2 separate regions of the Homo sapiens genome follow, and region 1 is linked to region 2. Evidence: fine-mapped expression QTL. A gene starts in region 2. The other region holds a variant in brackets. All regions are shown on one strand. Distances are between the middles of the regions. Region 1 has its middle 8.9 kb from the start of TMEM128. Region 2 holds the start of LYAR (Ly1 antibody reactive).

Evidence for each region. PIP is the estimated chance that this variant, and not a neighbour inherited with it, causes the effect.
Region 1: its variant is fine-mapped to the expression of LYAR in subcutaneous fat (GTEx, PIP 0.98).

The regions. Positions count from the first base shown.
Region 1 is chr4:4,255,712-4,258,624 of GRCh38, forward strand. No RefSeq gene overlaps it. Among named protein-coding and RNA genes, the nearest start is that of TMEM128, 8.9 kb to the left of the region's middle. RefSeq lists an enhancer at 1,329-1,829. The variant C/T (reference allele first, on the strand shown) is at 1,449.
Region 2 is chr4:4,288,800-4,291,712 of GRCh38, forward strand. LYAR (Ly1 antibody reactive) reads right to left here and starts at 1,355. Exons shown (of 10, transcript NM_017816.3): 1 at 1,237-1,355. It overlaps ZBTB49 (zinc finger and BTB domain containing 49), which reads left to right and starts at 1,452. Exons shown (of 8, transcript NM_145291.4): 1 at 1,452-1,553. RefSeq lists an enhancer at 1-380.

The DNA.
Region 1 (2,913 bases), 33 kb before region 2:
TCTGCTACTTACCATGTGGCCTGGGACAAGTCACGTAAGCTCTCGGCACCTGCTCATCTATGAAGGGGGAGCAATAACGCCTCCCTCCTAGAGATTTTGAAAAGCTTAATGATACATGTAAAGGGCTTATTACTATGCCTGGCATATAGGAAGTACCCATGAAAGGGAACAATTCATATTAAAGTGGAATCCAGGCAGTGGGGAAAGGCTGCCCACGAAGGCCTCATGGTCACTCCCAGGGGAGCAGCAGCAGGTCATTGCAACGCGGCCTTGAAGGGGTGAGGCTGGTGGCCATGCCAGGAGAAAGAGGGCAGGAAGCAGTGGAAGAAAGGATGACTGTGGTGCAAACTGGCCATCATTTACCATGCCCCTCACGTGTTAACTACGCCATCCTCACAGCAGCTGGATGAGGCAGTTACTGTTATAATTCCTATTTCATACATGAGAAAATGGAGGCACCAGCCTTTTTTGTTATGAGATTCAAAGGAGCTTCTTTCAAGTATTCCTTTGCTATGAATGATTAAACTCTCCGTTTGGTAGTTTAATTACAATTACTGAGAAAATACCTACTTTGTCGGAGTTCAAAAGTCAGCCATCCCTCAGGTCTTTGCTCCGTAGGCTCAAAGCTAGGAAAGTGGGGGAGCTAGGATACTAACCCAAGCTTTCGGCTGCCAGGCTAAACTGCGTCTCATGACTCAAAGCACCTCAGGACATAAGCTATTTGTCAGTGTCAGAAGCCGGGTGTGGTGGCTCACACCTGTTATCATGGCACTTTGGGAGGCCGAGGTGGGCAGATCACCTGAGGTCAGGAGTTTGAGACCAGCCTGGCCAACATGGTGAAACCCCATCTCTACTAAAAATACAAAAATTAGCCAGGTGTGCTGGTGCACACCTGTAGTCCCAGCTACTCTGGAGGCTGAGGCAGGAGAATCGCTTGAACCTGGGAAGCGGAGGTTGCAGTGAGCCGAGATCGTACCACTGCACTCCAGCCTGGGCAACAGAGCTAGACTCCACCTCACAGAAAAGAAAGAAAGTCAGTGTCAGCTTCCAACCCAAGCTGGGGTCCGAGGGGAGTAGGTGGACCGGTGGCGGGTAGCTGAAAGAACACTCGAGGGATCTTATACAGGTGGGATATGGCTTTATTCTCTGTGTCAGCCTTTGTCTTGGCTGCCTGCTCAGCAGCCCCACTCAGTGCCAGCTCCACAGTCTGCAGCTGCACTCCCCAGTGTGCTCACCATTTCCTGGCTCCACCCACCCACCCCCACCTGCAAGGCAGCCAACTCCATTATGCATGCCTTCTCACAGTGTTCGTGATACATTTGTGCGCTTCACAGACAATAGCGGCTCAGAGCCAGGGGATGAGCCCACCCATAACATGGTTACATAACTGATTATATGCTGCACGGGATTGTGCACCTGCACTCCAATCCCACTGCGTCATGCTGCAC[C/T]GGATATTTACCTCGGCCCACTCTTGATGGCAGCGCAGCCATTTCCTTTTCCCTTCCCTGGGGCCATTCTTGCTGAATGCTGGCTCCATGGTGCTGGCCATCTCCATAGATGAGAAGCCAGGAGGGAAGATGTGGCAACCTGGGTGCCCCTTTCCACCCAGACCCGTGGCAGATGTTGCTGATCAAATGCAGCATTTATTTCCCTTTGACAGCCAGGTGGAAGCCTCAAAATCCTGAAGAGCACCGGAAAATCACTGCCAGTTGACTAGAGTTAGTTGTAGTGTCAGATAGAATCTATTTGCCATCCCTTGCTTGAGGGCTTAGGACATGCCCAATAATAGTACAGAAATTCAATAAGGTATTCGCCAACTGAGGGTCACTTTTATGCCAGTAAGAATCTGCATGTCATCCCCTTGAGAGACTCCACACCTCCTCATCAAGAAGTAGTGAAAATGACATCCGGGTGTGATTTCTCACAAAAGAGAAAGGAACGAAAGAAATTTTTTTTAATGTAAAAAGGAAAATCATACCATTTGACCCAGCAATCCCATTACTGGGTATATACTCAGGAATATAAATCATTGTATTATAAAGATACATGCACACATATGTTCATTGCAGCATTATTCAAAATAGCAAAGACTTGGAACCAACCCAAATGCCCATCAATGATAGACTGGAAAAAGAAAATGTGGTACATATACACCATGGAATACTATGCAGCCATCAAAAGGAACAAGAGAATATCCTCTGCAGGGACATGGATGAAGCTGAAAGCCATTATCCTCAGCAAACTAATGCAGAAACAGAAAACCAAACACCACATGTTCTCACTTACAAGTGGAAGCCGAACAATGAGAACACACGGACACAGAGAGGGGAACAACACACACTGGGGCCTACTGGAGGGCAGCGGTGGGGTTGGGGAGAACATTAGGGAAAGGAGCTAATGCATGCTGGGCTTCATACTTAGGTGATGGGATGATCTGTGCAGCAAACCACATGGCACATGTTTACCTATGCAACAAACGTACACATCCTGCACATGTACCCCAGAACGTATAAAAATAATTAAAAAAAAGAAAATCACAAACGTCAATGTGCAAACACATGTTTGAACACAGCGTATGAGGAAATCCCTCTGCCAACCTTAGAAAAATCAAAGTGTTGCCAGGAGCAGTGGCTCACGCCTGTAATCCCAGCACTTTGGGAGGCCAAGGCAGGTGGATCACCTGAGGTCAGGAGTTCGAGACCAGCCTGAACAACATGGAGAACCCCATCTCTACTAAAAATACAAAATTAGCCGGGCATGGTGGTGCATGCCGGTAATCCCAGCTACTCAGGAGCCTGAGGCAGAAGAACTGCTTGAACCCGGGAGGCAGGGGTTGTGGCTAGCCGAGACCGCGCCATTGCACTCCAGCCTCGGCAACAAGAGCAAAACTCTTTCTCAAAAAAAAAAGAAAGA
Region 2 (2,913 bases):
AATATTCTTGCATGCACATGCAGACACTGACCTACACATCATTACCACCACTACCACTCAAACAGCCCACCTGAGGGGCCTAGCTGGCAACCCCAGGATATCCCCCACTGAACACTGTGACCCTGAGCATGCCACTGCCTCTATAAACTTCAAGTTATCTCATCTGTGAAACAAGAAGTCAGGCCAACTTGACAAGACTCAAGCCCCTTCCACGGGTAGCATTCTGAGAAACCATGGGTATGGTGCAAGAGAAGGACAGACAAACATACTCTGTCCACCATCCTGCCTAAACCTTTGTGTATGAGGCTGACAAGGGTTACAATGGGTGACATTCACAAGGAGAGAATCTCTCCCTTGTTCCTTGCAAAAGCCCTGGGAAGTAGGTGCACCTATCTCCACTAAACAGATGAGCAAACTGAGGCACAGAAGCCATTTCTCTCTGCCTCCTACCCCACCCACGGCATCACCAGCACTGTTTTAAACACCATCCCTTCACTCGAGTAACTACCATGTGTCAGGCACTATGCTAGACCCTGGGAGCCTCGGGCACAGTGTGAGTAAGTCCCAAGTGGGCCCTCTCTGCTAGAAATCAGGGTTGCAAATACAGACCCCACCTCATCCTCCTCCCTCTCTCCTCAGAGGTAGGTGCTTCAGAGAATCCTAACATTCATGGAGCACCCAAGCCCTCTCATAGGAGGTTAACACATTTCTACTCATGTAATCCTCATCACAGTTCTCCGAGTTAGATTCTATATGTTATGACAGATGAGGAAAGTGAGGCGCAAAGAGGTTAAAAAACTTACACCAGGTCATCCCACATCCAGGTAGTGGCAACCCAGATTCACACGCAGTAGTTATTCTGATCCTAAGTATGTGCTCTGGACCGCTACATCCTAAGGCCTCCTCTTTAGGGACTGATCTCCCAAGGCTCAGAGAAGAGCCCTGTCTCCAACATGCAGCAAGCCTGAAGCCCAGTCGGGCGGTGACCAATCGTCCTGGTTTGGCCAGGCCCGAGGGAGTTCCCAGGACGCCGGACCTTAAGTTTTAAAACTAAAACGAGTTGGTCACCCTAAGTCCAGGACTCCTGCCACTTCCCCAGAGCAGGAGTGAGATCTGAATGGAACTCCTTCCTCCATGCGTAACCCAGAGGGGCTGACGGTGGAAATCCCGTCCCTCCCCTACTCACTCTCTGAGCCCCAGCCTCCCAGGTCGGACCTCTGGGCCACCACCCCTCACCTCTCAGCCAGCGCCCGCCAACGGTTTCAACCGGCCGCGGGGAGCACGTGGACTCGCCGCCGCCAGCCCAGCGCCGCAGCTACCTGCCTCTCAGGCTTCGCGGTGCAGAATTCGCTTCTGAACCACCCAGCGCGCCTGCGCACCGCGGCCACGCCCCCCCCAGTGGAAGTGACGCCAACGGAAGCAGGAAGGCGGTTCCGGCAAGCCAAGGGGGCGTTGTCGTGATGATTCCGCGGCCAGCGGATCGCTGCGAGTGGCCTTGAAGGCAGCTGCTGCAGGTGAAGAGTAGGCGGCGGGGCAGAGAGCGGCCTCCGAGGGTAAGGTGGCCGGCCTTGCGAAGGCGTGCGGGGCTGGCGCTGGTGGGAATGGCCCGGAAGGGAAGGGAGGCCGGGCGCCCGAAGGTGGCCCAGAAGGGCATGGACCCACCGCTCCTTCCCGTCTCTGGGCACTCGAGGATACCCGGGGGGTTGGCGGCTCCTGCGAGAGTCAGCGAGCATTTGCTCTGTGCCGGGCATCACAGGGGACGCGGACTGAGACCCAGACGGCCAGGTTCCGGGCCTGGGAGCCGGGCCTTCTCCCTGGTGCAGCTTCCTCGGCCTGGAAACCCCACCCGCGCCCTCTCATCTCCAGGCTTTGCCCGCTGGAAGCCAGCCCGGCCCGCCTCCGCTACGCGCTGCCCATCTCTCGGCTTCTGTTTCCTTCCACGCTGTAGTTGAGAGTAGCGCTTAAGACGACAGAGCCCACAGCCTAGCTCAGTTTCATTACGGTGTGGCCTCTTTGTGCCTCAGCCCCGCATCTGTAAAGCGAATGTCATAGCGGCACCTGCGTCCCTGGAACCTTGTCGTATTTCATGAGTTGGTGCATGTAAATCGCTTAGACTAGTGGCTGCCACTTAGTAAGTACTCAATAAACGTTAGCTCTTCTCAGCCCTTAAAACAGGGTCTGGCACACAGTGGTGGTCACTAGGTGTTTGTTGCTTAAATGAATGAATGAAAGTTGAGTGGAGGATGCACAGAGTATTGTGAGAAACCTTCACTCCCAAGGTGTGTGTATATGGGTGATAAGGTTTCACTCTGAAAGTGAGCAGTGTTGGGCCTGGAATAGAAGGTGTATTAGTTTGCTAGGACTGCAAACAAAATACTGGGTGGCTTAAACAACAGAAATTTATTATTTTCTCACAGTTCTGGAGGTTAGAAGTCCAAGATCAAGGTGTCTTCAGGTTTGGTTTCTTCTGAGACATTTCTCCTTGGCTTGCACGTGGCTGCTTTCTTGCTGTGTCCTCGCATGGTCTTTCCTCTGTGTTTTCACATCTCTGGCGTCTCTCTTTGCATCCAGATTTCCTCTTTATGAGAACGTCAGTCAGGTTGTATTAGGGCCCACCTTAATGGCCTCATTTTAACTTAATTACCTTCTTACAAGCCTGATCTCCAAATACAATCACATTCTGGAGTGCTGGGGGAACAGTTTAACCATAACAGAAGGAATTCACAGAAATGGACAAGGAGGGAAATACTTTCCAACAGAAGTGACAGAATGGCCAGGAGGCTTAAAAGCAGGGTGCTCAAGATGTTTTTTGTGTTCAGGGCACATATGTGTACTTCAGTCTTGTTTGTGCTCTCGTACTGTTTTTGGGTTTGGTTGTTGTTGTTTGTTTGTTTGTCCTCCTGAATACTCAAA